4 separate regions of the Homo sapiens genome follow, and regions 1, 2 and 4 are each linked to region 3. Evidence: fine-mapped expression QTL. A gene starts in region 3. Each other region holds a variant in brackets. All regions are shown on one strand. Distances are from middle to middle.

The links. PIP is the estimated chance that this variant, and not a neighbour inherited with it, causes the effect. A credible set is the group of variants that fine-mapping cannot tell apart.
Region 1: its variant is the best candidate, but not a certain one, in a credible set for the expression of SF3B6 in monocytes (Fairfax 2014, PIP 0.50).
Region 2: its variant is the best candidate, but not a certain one, in a credible set for the expression of SF3B6 in whole blood (INTERVAL, PIP 0.81).
Region 4: its variant is the best candidate, but not a certain one, in a credible set for the expression of SF3B6 in monocytes after interferon gamma (Fairfax 2014, PIP 0.69).

Annotation. Positions count from the first base shown.
Region 1 is chr2:23,541,256-23,545,724 of GRCh38, forward strand. The region is part of intron 2 of KLHL29 (kelch like family member 29); the gene reads left to right. Among named protein-coding and RNA genes, the nearest start is that of LINC02923, 160 kb to the left of the region's middle. RefSeq lists an enhancer at 4,010-4,469. The variant G/A (reference allele first, on the strand shown) is at 2,648.
Region 2 is chr2:24,039,538-24,044,006 of GRCh38, forward strand. The region is part of intron 1 of WDCP (WD repeat and coiled coil containing); the gene reads right to left. It also overlaps a transcript of FKBP1B not described here. Among named protein-coding and RNA genes, the nearest start is that of WDCP, 5.6 kb to the right of the region's middle. The variant C/G (reference allele first, on the strand shown) is at 2,584.
Region 3 is chr2:24,073,973-24,078,393 of GRCh38, forward strand. SF3B6 (splicing factor 3b subunit 6) reads right to left here and starts at 2,354. Exons shown (of 4, transcript NM_016047.4): 1 at 2,228-2,354; 2 at 104-222. The coding sequence starts at 2,257. TP53I3 (tumor protein p53 inducible protein 3) reads right to left here. Exons shown (of 5, transcript NM_004881.5): 5 at 3,461-3,789. The coding sequence ends at 3,607. It also overlaps a transcript of FAM228B not described here. RefSeq lists enhancers at 1,640-2,172, 2,173-2,704, 2,239-2,468 and a silencer at 2,579-3,228.
Region 4 is chr2:23,593,689-23,598,157 of GRCh38, forward strand. The region is part of intron 3 of KLHL29 (kelch like family member 29); the gene reads left to right. Among named protein-coding and RNA genes, the nearest start is that of LINC02923, 210 kb to the left of the region's middle. The variant C/A (reference allele first, on the strand shown) is at 1,967.

The DNA of each region.
Region 1 (4,469 bases), 530 kb before region 3:
GGTGGATGCACGGGTAGATGGATGGATGGATGGATAAGTAGATGGACAGAAGATGGGCAGTTATATGCCTAGCTATGGAGAAGGCCAGAGGAGAGAACCGGGCTCCAGAACTCAAGGGGCTTCCTTCCATGCTCATCAGAAGCCTCTGCCTGTCTTATGGTCTCAGATCTTCTTGAGGATTGGTTCAGCCCTGCCAGACCATGGGCTCCTTGAGGGCAGTCCTCAGCCAAATCCATCTCTGCCAGCACTCACAGCCCCAGCACAGTGCTGAGTGCCTGGCCAGGGCTGGCTGGTGGGCTGAAAGTGAGCGGCAGCTCTGTGCATCTCTTTGTTGTAGCTGGAAGGTAAGACAGGAGCTAACCAGCAATGCAGGGTGATCTCATCTGGGTGTCAGAGGCAGCAACCCTTCCCAGATTGCTGGTCTCGGACACAGTGCATTCACCGTTCTTTCTCAAGTCCCTCGCAATCGAAAACAGGATTTTTTAAAGAGCTTTTAAAAAAGCCCAACCCAAAAAACAAAAAAAAAAAAACCATAAAACTGGTGCTCCCAGTGGACAGCAGCAGGGCTGGTGCCTTCTTGTGTGAGATGATTTGTGGATTGAGGCCCCAAGTCCAGATCCTGGGAAACAGTAGGTGTGTCTTCCATCCAGAAGCTCTTGTTTCTGGCAATGGCCGTAGTGGTGCAGCTGCTCAAACTGTCTAGAAAACTGAAGAATTAATCCTGGGAAGTAATTAGCTCTCCTGGGAGGGGTTGGGCTGTGTGCTGCCTGTTGTTAAGTCATTGTCGTCATACTGATGGCCTTGGGAAATGGCATTAAGAAGTCTAAAGGGCTGAGTCAGGCAACCAGGGTGGTGGCAGTGTTTTGTTTTCTTTTAATTTCCAACCCTTTGATCTCTTGTCTAAAATAGCCTCTCAGAATTTAGCAATTATATTTCTTCCCTGGTTAATACTGTTCCCTTCCTCTCTTCAATTGCATCTTTTTCGGTACATGTATTTGTTAAGGAACAAAAATGAGTTAGGCATTTAGAGGACTTACTTTAGTCCCAGTAGACCCACCTGCCTGGAAAATTGGATGCCTAGGGAGGCTTGTGCAGATGAGAGGGCTCCATCTGCACAGGGGTTCACCAGTTGGCTATAACCAGGTCTGCTGGGGAAGCTCTCCCACCTTGGTGTCTCTGGTTCTCTCCCTCTATCTCTTGTTCTGTTTCCATGGGGCATGTGTGCTCTGATGGGGACAGCCCGCGTTCAGGGTTTGGCTATTTGGGGAATTGCTGAGTCTCCTACTTTCTGGAGTTGACCTTTTCTGCAAAGCACATGCCATCCTCGGGGCTTGTCAGGCATTTGGAAGGGGACAGTCTCCAGGGAGCCAGCATCCAGCCACTGTCCTTCCTGCATTCTCTCCCCAGGGTGGAGGCCAGAGAGAGATCGTTCTTGCAGAGGAGGGGCAGGCTTCTGCCTGAACCCTCAGAGAGCCTCACCTGGACCAACTACAAGTTGCTCAGCCCCGGGGAGTTGAACCTGGAAGATGATCTCATAGCAGCCACCTGGGCCTTTCACCAGGGACACCTGGGGAAGGAACCAGGTCTAGTTACCACTCAGGCAGCTCCTGCTGCATTGGATCCAGGCTCTTTGTGACCTTGGGCAAGTCACTCCCAACTGTCTGAGCTTCTGCTTCCTCCCCTGGGAAATTAAGATTGCATTAGTCGGGGCAGGCTAACTATTGGAACAAACCACCCCAAACTGTAGTGGCTTAATCATGTAGCTTCCTTCTCAAGTCACGGTGTGGGATGGGTCAGTGAGAAGCAGCTCTGCTCCAGGAGCCCGAGAAGAACCAAGCCTCCTTGTGCAGTGTGTCCCTGCCGTCTGCGCCTCATCCTCCTCTGCAGTGGACAGGGAAAGAGAGATGAAGAAGACATCTCTGCTCTAACCACATGGTCTAGAGGGACCCGAGTCACTCGCACACACATTCTGCACATGTCGGCAAGAACTCATTACACGGCTCCAGCTAGAATCAAAGGGGAGCTGGAGAGTGTTGTCCAGCTGTGGTCCCCAAGAAAGAGGAGGGCACAGACATGGGCAGCGCCGGCGACCTCTGCCACAGAGATGGTGATGAAAAGTCCCTCCCCGGGATGTGCGGGAGGGTTAAATGTAAAATGTCATCATTCTTCAAGCACAGTGCCTGACCCCCAGTAGGTAGGGGGATATTGTTATTTTTCTTGTTTCTTCTCCCGGATATTCCCTTGAGGTTTATGCAAATAGCAGACCAAGGCAAGAAATGAAATCTATGTCCCTGCCCTCTGAAGTTACTGATTTCCGTGTTTCCTTGCAGTGTAACGTTTCATTAGACCTTCCAGATGGGGGAAAGAACAAGCAGATTAGAAGTCAGATAGTGCCTAGGAGCCTGCTCCATCGGTTTCTGGGACGGCTGGAGCTTCAAAGCTATTTGGTATTTCCACTGCCGAAAGGCCTCCTCGGGAGCAGTTGTGTTTTAATAAATGGCTGCCTGAGTAATTTTCCTCGGAGGAATTGCGTCGTGGATGTGTACGCTCCTGGGGGAGAGCTGGCTGCTCCCTCCACCACTCCAGATGCTGGTGCATTATGAATAGGATGCTTGGGGCTGGGGGAACTGGCAAGCCTGCCCACCCC[G/A]GGCTGGTGATGTCATCTCCCAGGTCCACCAGGTGGACTCTCCAGGGCTCTGGGTCGGGGCTTGCTGGACAGGGAGAGTAGGAGACATTTGTGCAACTGGCCTGAACTGCCCCTTCCCCATGGCCGCTGGCAAAAGCAACCGCTTTAAGACCCAGGGGAATAATTCATTTCTTTGACATAACCTGACTGATGCTGCCCCCATCAGATAGGGGCAGTCTGGTGGGTGGGGCAGGGAAGGAGGGAAGAACAGGCCTGAGTCCAGGATCTTGCCCGTCTGTGGGGAGAGAAGACGGGCACGAGAACCACGGTGATGTGGGATTGCAGCGTGCTTCATTCACTCGTTATTTACGGAGCCCTACCAGAGGCCGGGTATTGCCTGGGCCAAGATACAGCATTGAACCGAGCTGGCAGGTGGAGACTGTGGTGCCTGAGAGCAGGTCTCCGGGGCTGCGCTGCCTGGGCGTGAATCCTCCTCTGCCACTTTCTAGCTGGGAGACTTTGGGCCAATTGCTTGAGCTTTCTGTGCCTCAGTTTCCTAATCTGGAAGATGGAGATAGCCATCGGAACAGCTGCCTCACAGAATTGTTATGTAGATTAAATGAGTCTGTGTTTAGAAGCACTGCCCTTAGGGAACTCACACTCCAGAGAGGGGACACACAGAAATCTAAGTAAGTAAACTATATAGGCCAAGAGAAGGCAATGAGAGTGAGCGGGAAAGAAAGCAGAGAAAGAAGTTGCCATTTTACAATAGGATGGGCAGAGAAGGCCTCACTGAGAAGGCAACATTTGAGAAGAGGCTGGAAGGCAATAAGAACGCTGGCCGTGTGGATAGTGGGGAGGATGGGCCCGGCACAGGGAGCAGTGTGTGCAAAGGTCCTGAGGTAGAATGGGGCCTAAAGTGATGGAGCCGCTGCAAGGAGGCCAGCATGTTGGAACAGAGGGGCAGGGGGAGACCAAACAAGAGAGGGGAGTGAGCACCAGGGCCTCATGGGTCTTAAGAAGAAGGCCTTTGGCTTTTTCTTAGGGTAGGATGGGAGCCATTGCAGGGACTTGGGAGAGATGATCTGGCTTGTGTTTTAACAGGATCACTCTGGCTGCTGGGTGGAGAATACTCTGAATGAGGGTGAGGAAGGAAGGAAGGAGACGTGTTTAGGAGGCTGTGGCAGAAATCCAGCTGAGAGATGACAGAGGCCCAGGCCAGGGTGGACGTGGGAAGAAGTGGTTGGTGTTAGGAGGAAACACAGCTGCCAGCCGAGGAGGCTGAATGTATAAGAAGCATTTGTGAGTGAGAGACGAAAGGTCTGCAGGCCAGGGCTGGTCATGAGTCCAGGAAAAGATAGAGAAAGAAGAGCACTGGCTTCAGAGTCGGGCACAAGAGCCTCCTTCCAAGCACCACCACTTCCCCCAAGTGGCCTTGAGCAAGCCACCGCATCACTGAGCCTCAGTTTCCCCTTCTATAAAGTGGAGGCAGTGCTATGACACACGCAGTTTAAGTGACTTGCAGAGTAGCAGGCATGCTGTCGGTGCTCCGTAAATGCTCCCTGCTTCCCCTTTCTGCTGCCTGTTTGCAGCTGGGTAAGGAAGGCTTGGCGTCCTCGGGGTGGGGTGTCCCCAGGCCAGGAGGCTGACACCCGCAGAGCTCAGGGGTGTGGAGAGAGATGCAGGCACCACCTCGTGGTAAGCGAAAGGGGGTGCTGGCATCTCCATCTCTGATTTCATAGTGAAATTTGCCAGGCACTTCCTCTAGGCAGGAGGCCCTGGAGTATGGGGTGATTAGGCCCCGGCTACACTGCTCCTGGGGACGAGTCATTTCCTTTGTAGC
Region 2 (4,469 bases), 34 kb before region 3:
CACCATGAGAAATCTAGACAAATCTAGAATGTAGGACATTTGGTAAGACAACGGCTTAGCCCCTTCCCAGGTTAATAATGTGGAGAGACAAAAGGACAGGGGGAGTATTATAAATTAAGAGACTACTGAGCTATCAGGCAAATGCAATGTATATACTTTGGATCTTGAAGAAATAAAATCTTCTACCTAATGAAGATTTTTAGAACTGGGGAAATCTGAGTATGGAATGGATATCAGAAAATATTGTAGAGTTATTATTTTTCTTCTTTTTTTTTTTGAGACGGAGTCTCACTCTTGTTGCTCAGGCTGAAGTGCAATGGCACAATCTCGGCGCACTTCAACCTCTGCCTCCTGGGTTCAAGCGATTCTTCTGCCTCAGCCTCCAGAGTAGCTGGGATTACAGGTGCCTGCCACCAGGCCCAGCTAATTTTTTTTTTATTTTTAGTAGAGACGGGGTTTCACTATGTTGGCCAGGCTGGTCTCAAACTCCTGACCTCAGGCAATCCACCCACCTCAGCCTCCCAAAGTGCTGGGATTATAGGCATGAGCTCCCGCGCCCGGCCAGAGTTATTAATTTTCTTAAGTGTGAACATGGTATTGTGGTTATGCAGGACAAGGTCCTTATTATTTAAATAAGCATGTTGAAGCACTTGGGGTAAAATGTCATGATGCCTACAATGTGCTTTCAAATGGTTTGACAAAAAAAACCCAAATTTTCTATAGACACACAGAAAGAAAACAAATGTAGCAAAATGTTAATAATTGTAGAGTCTAGATTGAGGCTATGTTAGTATTTATGGTACTTTCAACTTTTAAGTTAGAAAATTTTCCAATTAAAAATTTAAGAAAAGTCTCCTCCATCATCTAATTTCTATTCGTCCTTTCACTGCCAAATCAATGAATAACTGATATGCACATCTCTGACTTTATTAGCACTTATTTCAAATCCTTCCAAAGTGGCTTTTATCCCTCTATTGAAATGACACTCAAAAATCACTGTTTCTATTTCTACTTCTACTTCATCTTATTCAACAGCACTTAATAATTTTCAGAACATTTTCACATTCCCTATTGCATTTTATCTTACAATAATCTTTTAAAATAATGTAAAGTAGGTTAGGCAAGTATTATCTTCATTTTTTCACCCTGAATATTTTTCCCCCAGGCATTTGAATCACTAAAGAAGCATATGCTTAGGGCTGGGCGTGGTGACTCACGCCTATAATCCCAGTACTTTGGGAGGCTGAGACGGGAGGATCACCTGAGGTTGGGAGTTCGATCCCAGCCTGACCAACATGCAGAAACCCCATCTCTACTAAAAATACAAAATTAGCCAAGTGTGGTGGTGCATGCCTATACTCCCAGCTACTTAGAAGGCTGAGGCAGGAGAATCGTTTGAACTGGGGAGGCAGAGGCTACAGTGAGCTGAGATCGTGCCATTGCACTCCAGCCTGGGTAACAACAGCGAAACTCCACCTCAAAAAAGAAACAACAACAACAAAAAACAAGTACATGCTTAGGCTGGGCACGGTGGCTCATGCTTGTAATCCCAGCACTTTGGGAGGCTGAGGCGGGTGGATCACCTGAGGTCAGGAGTTTGAGACCAGCCTGGCCAACATGGTGTAACCCTGTTTCTAATAATAATACAAAAATTAGCCGGGCATGGTGGCGCATGCCTGTAATCCCAGCTACTCAGGAGGCTGAGGCAGGAGAATCACTTGAACCCAGGAGGTAGAGATTACAGTGAGCCAAAATTGCACCATTGCACTTCAGCCTGGGCGACAGGAGCAAAACTCTATCTCCAAAAAAAAAAAAAAACTGTTCCCTCCTACTCAGTGCCAGCCCCTTTAGCTCCTCCTCCTTTCCAACATTTCAAAGCCTTGATAAAAGCATCATTAACAATTTGGTGTTTAGCCTCTGAAAATGTTAAAGAAAGACACAAAGATATATAGGATTTTACATGTTATGGCTTTTCTTTTAAACAAAAAATGGGGTAGCCAGGCATGGTGGCTCATAGGCATGAGCCACCCAGCACTTACACCCATTACACCCAAAGTGTAATCCCAGCACTTTGGGAGGCCCAGGCAGGCAGATTACCTGAGGTCAGGAGTTCGAGACCAGCCTGGCCAACATGGTGAAACCCCATCTCTACTCAAAATACAAAAATTAGCTGGGCTCGGTGGCAGGTGCCTGTAATCCCAGCTACTCGGGAGGCTGAGGCTGGACAATTGCTTGAACCTGGGAGGGGAGGCGGAGGTTGCAGTGAGCTCAGATGGCGCCACTGCACTCCAGCCTGGGCAACAAAAGTGAAACTCTGTCTCAAAAAAAAAAAAAAAAAAAAAAAGATACATATAGTCAGTAGGGAGAATAAGGACATTATTTGGATAAGCTGTAATACCTGAATACTCACTTTGAAATATAAACATAAAAAATACTATTTAATGTAAAATGAAAAACTGCCTCAGGAAAATTATATTTTGAAATACTATCAATCAGTGGATACATAAATATATAATAATGGATATAAGAATAAAATGTTGCAATAATAAACACAGACTGAGAAAGACTAATTTTAGTATAAAG[C/G]CTGGGTGTGGCAGCTCACGCCTGTAATCCCAGCACTTTGGGAGCCCGAGAAGGGCAGATCACGTGAGGTCAGGAGCTCAAAACCAGCCTGACCAACGTGGAGAAACCCCATCTCTACTAAAAATACAAAAAATTGGCCGGGCGCAGTGGCTCACGCCTGTAATCCCAGCACTTTGGGAGGCCGAGGCAGGCGGATCACGAGGTCAGGAGATCGAGACCATCCTGGCTAACACGGTGAAACCCTGTCTCTACTAAAAATACAAAAATTAGCCAGGTGTGTTGGCGGGCGCCTGTAGTCCCAGCTACTCGGAAGGCTGAGGCAGGAGAATGGCGTGAACCCTGGAGGCAGAGGTTGCAGTGAATCGAGATCGCACCACTGCACTCCAGCCTGGGTGACAGAGCAATACTCCGTCTCAAAAAAAAAAAAAAAAAAAAAAAATTAGCTGGCTGTGGTGGCGCATGCCTGTAATCCCAGCTACTCAGGAGGCTGAGGCAGGAGAATCGCTTGAACCCGGGAGGTGGAGGTTGCAGTGAGCCGAGATCGTGCCATGGCACTCCAGCCTGGGCAACAAGAGTGAAACTCTGTCTCAAAAAAAAAAAAATTTAGTATAAAAACAATTACTGGGCCAGAGCCAGGCGCGGCGGCTCACGCCTGTAATCCTAGCATTTTGGGAGGCCGAGGCGGGCAGATCACCTGACCATCAGGAGTTCGAGACCAGCCTGACCAACATGGAGAAACCCCGTCTCTACTAAAAATACAAAATTAGCTGGGCGTGGTGGCACATGCCTGTAATTCCAGCTACTCAGGAGGCTGAGGCAGGAGAATCACTTGAACCCAGGAGGCGGAGGTTGCAGTGAGCTGAGATCATGCCATTACACTCCAGCCTGGGCAAAAAGAGTGAAACTCCGTCTCAAAAAAAAAAAAAAAAATTACTGGGCCAGGTGGCTCATGCCTTTAATCCGAGCACTTTGGCAGGCCAAGGCGGGTGGATCACCTGAGGTCAGGATTTCGAGATCAGCCTGGCCAACATGGCGAAACCTCGTCTCTACTAAAAATACAAAAAAATTAGCCAGGAGTGATGGCACACTCCTGTAATCCCAGCTACTTGGGAGGCTGAGACACGAGAATTGCTTGAACCTGGGAGGCAGATGTTACGGTAAGCCAAGATGGCACCACTGCACTGTAGCCTGGACAACAGAGTGAGACTCGGTCTCAAAAACAAAACTAAACAAAATGACTGTTGGCCAGGCACAGTGGCTCATGCCTGTAATCCCAACAATTTAGGAGGCCAAGGCAGAAGGATCACTTGAGCCCTGGAGTTCGAGACCAGAGATCAGCCTGGACAACACAGCAAGATACTGTCTCTACTTAAAACAAAACAAAACAAAACAAAAAACCCCCCAACAATCTACAAACATATATAAAGTGATGTTTAACCTTATTAGTTATCAAATAGTTGTGTAAACTGGCAGTACTCATATTTTTCACCACTCACTCTCTTCTTAATATACTTAAAATGAATTCCATTCCAATTTCTTCTCCAAAACATCTCTCACCAGGCCACCAGTGCTTCCCTGTCACTGAATCTAAATGACATTTTTCAGCCTTGTTTTACTGAGTAAGTGTCAAAGGCAGAACTTGAGAAGTTGTCTTCAGACTCTAAATCCAATGAAATGTATTCTCTACCAACCTGGTGATTTGCTTATCTGTAAATTATTTCGCATATCTCCTTGCTAGCTTTGTCCTTGCTCTTAGGATCTTTCACTTAAAAAAAAAAAGGGTCTATTATGCTTTTATATATGATGTCAGATTCAGTGGTTCTGCAGCGGCTTGCTAAACGGAGAAAAAAGTCCAGTCATTACTAATGAAGAAAACTGTGATCTCT
Region 3 (4,421 bases):
GGTTGTCGCACTGCACACAGCACAGGGTGGCCTCATCGTCAGCTATAATTCTGAAATTACAGATTATGCTATCATTTTCTTTAAATGACTCAGTAAGACTCACACTCTGATTTGACGAATAGGTCCATATTTCCCAAATATATCATACATTTCTTCAGCTGTGATTTTGTATGGCAAATTTCTTATATACAATATCCGATTTACTTCAGGTGGAAGTCGAATCTAAAATGAGAAATACGTATTGTTATTATAATTAGGGGCATTCTAAAAAATTATAATTTAAATGCCCCTATAATTAGGGGCATTTTAAAAAATTCTTAATGATACGTAATAATAAAAAGCCAAGAATAAGAGGTATAATTTGATGTTTCTGAAAATGGGCAGATCTTTGAAAAAGCAACAGAGGCTGGGTGCAGTGGCTGGTCCCTATAATCCCAGCACTTTGGGAGGCAAAGTGGGAGGATCACTTGAGCCCAGGAGTTTGAGACCAGCCTGGACAACATAGTGAGACCCCCATCTCTACAAAAATTTTAAAAAATTAGCCAGGCATGGTGGTGGGTGTAGGCCTTTGCAAACCTTACCACCATCACTCCTGCTAACACCTGAGTTGGGCTGTACCCTCTTCCCTGCCCATCCCAGGAGATGACCCTGATTCTTGTTTCTTGGAGAAAATAGACATGACCAATTGAAATACTTTTCATCTATATCCAACTACTTTCCCTCTATTACTACGCCAACCTTCATCTACTCAAAACCTTCACTTCTAAACTCAACCTATCTTTCTTCCATATCATGTTTCGCACACTCTGCTGGATTGCTCCCATTGGCATAAAGATACACCTATATCACACATCTTTTAAAAAGTCAACTATCTGGCCGGGTGCGGTGGCTCATGCCTGTAATCCCAGCGTTTTGGGAGGCCAAGGCAGGTGGATCACTTGAGGTCAGGAGTTTGAGACCAGCCTGGCCAACACGGAGAAACCCTGTCTCTACTAAAAATACAAAAATTAGCCGGGCATGGTGGTGGGCACCTGTAATCCCAGCTACTCAAGAGGCTGAGGCAGGAGAATTGCTTGAACTCAGGAGACAGAGGTTGCAGTGAGCCAAGACTGTGCCACTGCACTCCAGCCTGGGTGACAGAGTGAGAGTCCATCTCAAAAAAAAAAGTCAACTATCATCCAATTTCCCTACTTCCTATTTAAATGAGAACTCATGGACAGAGTGTCTTTGCTGTTTCCATTTTCTCAACTTCCACCATCTTTTCACCCCACTGCAATCAAGTTTTCATCCACTGAAATGATTCCTATCATCAAGGTCACCAAAAGTCTCCATTTACATATACAATGGTCAATTGCTTGTCTTTTCTTTCTTTCTTTCTTTCTTTCTGTTTTTTTTTTTTTTTTTGAGTCAGGGTCTTGCTCTGTCTCCTGGGCTGAAGTGCTGCGCAGTGGCACAATCATGGCTCAAGGCAGCCTTGAATTCCTGGGCTCAAGCAATCCTCCCACCTCAGCCTCCAAAAGTGCGGGGATTACAGGCATGAGCCACCTCACTCGGCCTAACTTCATCTTACACCTCTAAGCGTTTTACTGTTGACTAATCTCTTTTTTGAGTTTTTTTTTTTTAAAAGTTTCCGTAACACTGTACTCTCAAACACTAGAATGTAAGCAGAAGGACTTGTTTTATTCACTGCTGTATTCCCAATACGTAAGACTAGTGTCTGGCACATAGTAGCTATTCAATAAATATAATTGATGAATTATGTCCCACATGGCAAGCAGAATACATAGTAGGTGCTCAAAAAATATTGTTTTAATTAATGTGTTAATGAAGGATCCGAAAAGCACCATGATCTGAGGGGAATCCCAGGTCCTAGTTGTTGGTGAACCATTAAGTTAGTTGAGGACTCTTCTGAGATATCGACTTTAAGTCAAGGAGATAATCCTAACGCCAGGTCCTTAGGTGCGGGTCAAGCAAAGAGGCTATAGGGGTAACACTATCACTGACACTAGGGTAGAGACTGAGGAACTCTCAAAAGGGGTGGGGACAGAAATGTGGCTCAAGGAGCATATCTCTGAGGATGGGGCCGGATAGTGTCTTCGCTGACAGGATAGGAATTCTGGAGTTCTCCGCTCTGGGGACGGAGGAGGAGCAAGAATGCTCCGATCCACGCCGCTAAGAAAGTCAAACCCGAAGTTCTCCCACCCTCCGCAGAACACCCGATACTCACGTTCGCCCTCTTGGCCGCTTGCATCGCCATCTTGGCGGGCTGATGAAGTTACCGTAGCAGATACTGAAATTCCTCCGGAGCTCGCTCGGCTTCGGGGGTTACACCGCGTTAGATGCAGGACATCAACATCCAGGACCCGCCGGAAGCTGTTACAGCGGAATAGCGCCGTCTTACGCTGAGACGCGCTGACGTAGCAGCCCCCTTCGAATAGACTCCGGGGTAAAACCGAGCCTGAGCGAGACTCGAGGCCGGAAGATGGAAAGGCGAGAGTCCAAGACACTTCCGGGCTCTGTACCGTAAAGGGCGGGGCGTAGCCTCCAAAAGGCGAGATGTTCCGGTCGGGGAGGCCCTGAGCAGAGGAACCCGGGTGGAGAGGGCGGGGCCTGAGGAGGGCGGAGAGCTGGGGCGGGTCTCAGGTGAGTAACTGGGGAGCGGAGGAGGCGGGGCTTGAGCAGGGTTATGACAGGTAGGGCGGGACCCAGGTGAGTAGCGGGAGGGGGCGGGGCCTGAGGAGGGTGCGGAGAGCTGGGGTGGGGCCCAAGTGAGTATCCGGGAGGGAGCCGGGCCTGAGCAAGGCGGTGAGCTGGGGCGGGACCCAAGTGAGTAATGGAAGGGGCGGGGCCTGAGGAGGGTGGTGGCGGTGGGGCGGGGCCCAGATGTGTAGCGGGAGGTGGTGGGGCCTGAGGAGGGTGGCGAGAGGTGGGGTGGGGCCCAGGTGAGTAGCGGGCGAAGGCGGGGCCTGAGGAGGACTGAGCTGGGGCGGGACCCAGGTGAGTAGCGGAAGGGATCGGGGCCTGAGGAGGGTGGTGGAGGTGCGGCGGGGCCCAGAAGTGTAGCAGGAGGTGGTTGGGGCTGAGGAAAGTGGTGGAGGTGGGGCGGGGCTCAGATGTGTAGCGGGAGGTGGTGGGGCCTGAGGAGGGCGGCGAGAGGTGGGGTGGGGCCCAGGTGAGTAGCGGGCAGGGCTGGGGCCTGCTGTGGTGCCCACTGGTTGCGGGGCGCGCGGGCAGGTGCCGGAGGTGGTGGGCCTGGGCCTCTAGCTGTGCGCAAGGCGGAATATGTGGGGTTCTGGCGGCTTGTGTCACGGCTGACGCTGTAACTATACCCAGAATCTCCGTCCCTGGAGGGGCCCTCAGGTTGAGCGTCAGCTGATCGGGCCTCAGTAATCCCCGCTGCGACGCCCGTCCGGACTCCCACCTCAACCCCGCCGCGGCGGCCCCAGTCCGCGTGCCACCCTTCCAGTTCACTCTTTATTTCCTCATATCAGCTTTAAACGGCTCTGGAGGAAGCACCGGGTTTCTTGGCCTGTCTATTGTGAATCTTCTCCAGGTTTGCTCTGGAAAGGCCTGGGGTGGCCGCGTCCTGTCCTGCCCCATCCTCCTTCACTGGGGCAGTTCCAGGACGATCTTGCCTATGTTCTTGTTGGCCTCCATGTACTTATGGGCCTCCTGGATTTCGGTCACTGGGTAGATTCTGTCCAGAACCGGCAGCAGACGTTGGGGGCCCTCCGTGGAGAAGTGAGGCAGAATTTGCTCCGTGAAAGCATTCACCAGCATTTGCTTGTACTAAGACAAGGGAAAGGAGATCATCAGCCTGGGGAGAGAGCCTCACCCTGCCCTCCTCATCCTCCTCAGCCTTCTTGCTCTCTCTGAAGCCACGTATCTGAAAAAGCACACAGGGACACTTAACCCCTCACTTCCTAGCATGTGTGTGAAATACCCTTGAAGGAGTCATGTGCCATCTCAGAATATGTCCGATAGGTATATTGTTAATTTTGAGGTGAAAGCATTGGAGAAATTGTAGTTTCAGAAAAGGCTAGCTGACCTGTCTCTTCTTGCATGTAGCAAGTCATAAAGATTCCTCTGAGAGGGGTACCCTCCCCATACTAGGGCAAAAAGCCCTTATCACCAGAGACTGGAAACGGGGCTGCAATGGAACTGAATAAATACACTTAAGGAAGTAACCCTTATCTTCCACTAGTTTTACACCCCCCACCCCCATATATCTCCTAGTGACTTCCCTAGAAATTTACTATCCCTAGCCAGATTTTGTCTTATTTCTTCTCAAATTTATTGTTCTTTGTCTAAAAATTACAAAAGCATCTTACTTTGGCCGAATCACTTGAGCCTGGGAGTTTGAGATCAGCCTGGGCAACATGGTGAAAACCTGTCTCTATAAAAAATACAAGCCAGGCATG
Region 4 (4,469 bases), 480 kb before region 3:
TTGACACCTAAAACCCAGCTGTGAAATGCAGTGTCTTCACCTCGGAAAGCCCTCCCAGGGGCTGCCCTTACAGTTTAGATATCTCAGCCTGCACAGCTCCAAGGCAGTGAATTCTAAGGGAGGACCCTCATTTTACACATAAGAGGTGGGAGGGCCAGGGCACCCTGTGGCCAGGCGTGTCGCCTACGTGCTTGTTGTCCACAAGCTTTTCCTTCAGGGCCCCTCCCTCCCTGATTACACAGAGCCCGGGCCTGGGAGAAGGGTCTGATCATTTCCCTGCCATGTCTTCTCTGTGAGCCCTTGTGCCTCAGTTTCCCTGCCTATCAAACAGGAATAACCATCTCTTCCTCGTCCACTTCACAAGGTAGTTATGAGACTGAAATGAAAGGCTGGGTGTGGCAGCCCTTGGAGGAGGGGATTTAATGACAGGGGTGTCGAGGAGTTGATTATACAGCAGAGGTGGGAAGGTTCTGTTTTCTCTGCCTGGCGCGTTGCCTTGTTTACCAGACCGGCCTTATTTGGGAGTGCTCCGGGGAGTCGCTGGCTTCATGGAACATGCAGCGATTTCATGGTAAAGCCGGGCACTCAGAGGTGGAGGTGTCACCATCTGGAACCAATTCGCGTTTTCCTGAAGTCTGAGGCGCCCGCAGACTTCCTGCCCGGCTCCTCCGGGCTCTGGAATGGCTCCCACCTGGACCCAAGACCAGGGACATTTCGTTCCTCCTGGATTGTTCTAATCCCAGACACTCAGGAGCTCACCCCCGGCCAACACCAGTGCCCTTCTTCGCTGACTTCTTTTCACCGTGTTTCTGTAAACACATTAAAAATGGCCTTCCTGCATTTCAATTCTCCATCTCTCCTGCCGTTTTCTCTGTCCCCTGATTTCAGCCTCCAGGATTGAAATTCTTTCTCCTGGTCTCCATGAGGAATTGGTGAAACAGAAAAAGCAGGAAATTAATGTCCCAGCCTCCAGGCTCCACAAAGCATTAGATGGAATTAAAGTAGAATAATGAGTCAATGCACACACAACTCTGTTGTTCTTTGACTTTTCCTTTCAAAATTCATGTAGTGAATGCTGCTCCCATTCTACATCATCTTGGGCTGGGAGACACACTAGTGTCCTGAATGAATTTACATACCAAATGGGTTTTAATTTTATATTTTTGCTTAAGGTCAGGACATTTATTTATTATCATTATTTATTACTGAAGCACGAGTGGTTTTAATTATTTTAGTGTTCCTCCTACAAAGCAGGATAGCTGCTAGCTACAGACCATTTTCCGTTTCCGCTCACATAAATAATATAGTTTTTAATTTCATGAAGATTTAGTATTCGTGTGCTTTGTAAATTAAAGTCATCGTTTACCACAACAGAGACGGAGTGTTTGGAATATCCTGGTGGACTTCTCTGTCCATTTCTGGAGGATCACTTTTCCTAACTTTGGTTCTCTGTTGCAGGCGCCCAGAAAGAGGCACCCGCAGAGGGCCTGGGAAGGGAAGGGGCTGTGGGGTGTGGGAAGTGGCTGTGGGGTGTGGAAAGGAGAGGGGAAGGAACCCTTCTTTCCTGCAACGTCATTTGCCTTTCCATGTATTATAATCCTATCCCGTTTCTCCCACAAAACCCTACCAAAGCCAGCATTTTTGTCTCTGTTTTACAGAGAAGGGAACTGAGGTCCCAGCATGTTAACTAACTTGCCCAAGATCACTCAAACCCAAGTGACAGGTTCAAATGCTGATATTCCTGACCCAAGGCATAGCCCTTTGTTCTCCTACCTGCCCTCTCTGTGCCAAGGCTTGGGAAGGTGGGCAGATGTCTCTGCACAGGCCTGGGGCTGGACACTGGCAGAGGTACAGTCAGCAGTAGAAGGATGAGAGATGGACGCAGAGAAGGAGTGGGCAGGAAGGGTGGCAGGCAGCGGGCACTGCCAGGCTGTGGTGTGACTGTGTGGGTGCAAGTAGAGGGGAG[C/A]AGTGTCCTGGTCACTTGGGGGGCAGAGGACGTGACCTCCTAGGAGGCAGTGTCCCCAACACACAGCCAGGGGACTCCATCTGGACACCCTGGAGCCACCAAATCTTGCAGACTGCCCTCTGCAGGTCCTCCTCCATCCCTTCCCATGCTGTCTCTCCACCAGGATCCCAGCTCTCCCAGGGTGGCTGCTAGGCCAGTGAATTGTGAGCTCCCCACGCAAGCAGCATGCCCCTTCCAGACACCATGACTCCCTGTCTGTAAATCACTCTCCTGCATCCCCATCCCATCCCCAGCTAGTCCTGGGCGGGCTTCTTCCTCAGAAGCATTCCAGAAGGTTTTCACACTCCCCGTGGTTTGTCAGGAGGACACCGTTTTGTGGCATTGGGTCCACATTTGCTGCCAGCATAGCCTCTGGAATGCACGGCCTGCTTGGGGTTGCCATGGAGAAGCTGGGTCTGTTGGTGGTTTGAACTGAGCCGCATACAATAGAGCACCCTCGGCAGCCAGCCGGACGGGCAGGCCGGGGGCGGGGCAGGGCAACAGCCTTGTACCCTGCTGCCATCTGCTTTGACCCTGCCAGGCAGCTGCAGCCCTATCCCTTAGGGTTGTTGGCAGATTAAAAATGTAGTGGATTTAAATCATGCCCACCTCATTTTGCAAGGGTTTTCTTGAGTTCTCCTCCAGGCTTCAGCTACCAACACGCCCCTATGAGTCTCTGTCTCCGAGCAGAGGTCTTGGTGTCCTGGTGGCTGCATCCCAGGGGAGAGGAAGGAACCCGTTTCATAAGCGCACTCACGTTGGAGCAGAACAGAGTCACTAGGAGGCTCGCTGTGATTTATCAGGGGCCATGCCACACTGTCCTTGCACACAACGTGGCTTAAGTCTAAACAGAAAATAGACCTCACGCTGAGTCATCCTTCTCCATAATGGAAGATGAGATTGTGCTGGCGGGAACACATCATGTCTGGGGACGTATGCTGCCATCGTGGGAATGTGCCTCTTTAGCACGCCTTTAACCCCTATCCTGCAAGCATCTCCCTCTAAATGAGGGCGATAGGAAGACTCCGATGCTGGGGCAGAGCCATCTCTTACACACAACGGCGAAATTATTTTCTTCATCTCAGAAACAGGTTCCCCCAGGAGGACATAAATAAATAAGGGATTCCTGGTACATACTTTACCCATTTTTCAGATTTTCCTCCTTCTTACTCATGGCACTCATGTAAGTGCTACTTCTGGAGTGGTCCCAGCCAGATAGGTGCCTGGGGATACAGGAAAGCTCAGGGCTGCGTTTAGAATCAAATAGAGCTAATGGTGAAGTCTCTTCCCACTGAAAAGAGAAGCAAAATACTTTTCAGAGCTGGATCGCTTGCTGCTTTATATAGAGGGCTCTGCTTTTGGGGGACAAGCTCTCTCTGAAACCCAGGCCCACATATTTTATAAGTGTTCAGGGAAGACTGTCTTTTAAAAAGGTACAATTAGGCAGGCATTTGCTTATCATTTTTCCAATATAATAGGTAGAGAGATTGAGGTCACATCTCTGGGAAGAGTCTGATGAGGGCATTGTTTCCTCTGGGCCAGGTTGCAAACTTGCTACGTGTCTGTTCACCCATCTCGCTCTCAATCTATCTCTCTCTCTCTCATATATATATATATGTGTGTGTGTGTGTGTGTGTGTGTGTGTGTGTGTGTATGTATATGTGTATGTATATATATATGTGTGTGTGTGTATATATATATATATATATATATATTTTTTTTTTTTTTTTTTTTTTTTTTTTTTTTCTGAGACAGAGTCTCGCTCTGTCACCCAGGCTGGAGTGCAGTGGCACAATCTTGGCTCACTGCAACCTCTGCCTCCCAGGTTCAAGTGATTCTCCTGCCTCAGCCTCACAAGTAGCTGGGATTATAGGCATTGTGCCACCATGCTTAGCTAACTTTTGTATCTTTAGTAGAGACGGGGTTTCACCGTGTCGGCCAGACTGGTTTTGAACTCCTGGCCTCAAGTGATCTGCCCGCCTTGGCCTCCCAAAGTGCTGGGATTACAGGCATGAGCCACCGTGCCCGGCCCTGTTCACCCGTCTCTAAAATGAGGCTCTGTAAGGTTCCTTCTAGCCCTGACATGCTCTCAGTCTAGGGAAGGAGATGGGGAGCTCTTGTAGGTTCTTCTGCAGAGAAGATGCATCTTCCTGGTCCCCATCCCCGACCTGTGGTCTTTCCGCAACCCTGCCCGTTCATGGCCTCTGGGCTGGTCCCCCTCACTCCTCCATCTCAGTGGGAGAGATGCACAGGATGCCTCTGGAGCTGGTGCCAGGAGTAAGGCCCCCTTCCCATCCAGGGAACACTTGGTTCTGCAGGGCTTGGAGGCATCCGAAAGTCAGTGAGAGATGAGGCTGGGCCGCTCTGAAGTTCAAGGGTTTGGAAACGGTGTCCTGGGTACAAATAATAACCAGCCTGAGTACCTAAGAGGTTGGTAATAAGAGGCACAGTAATAATGCCTGGC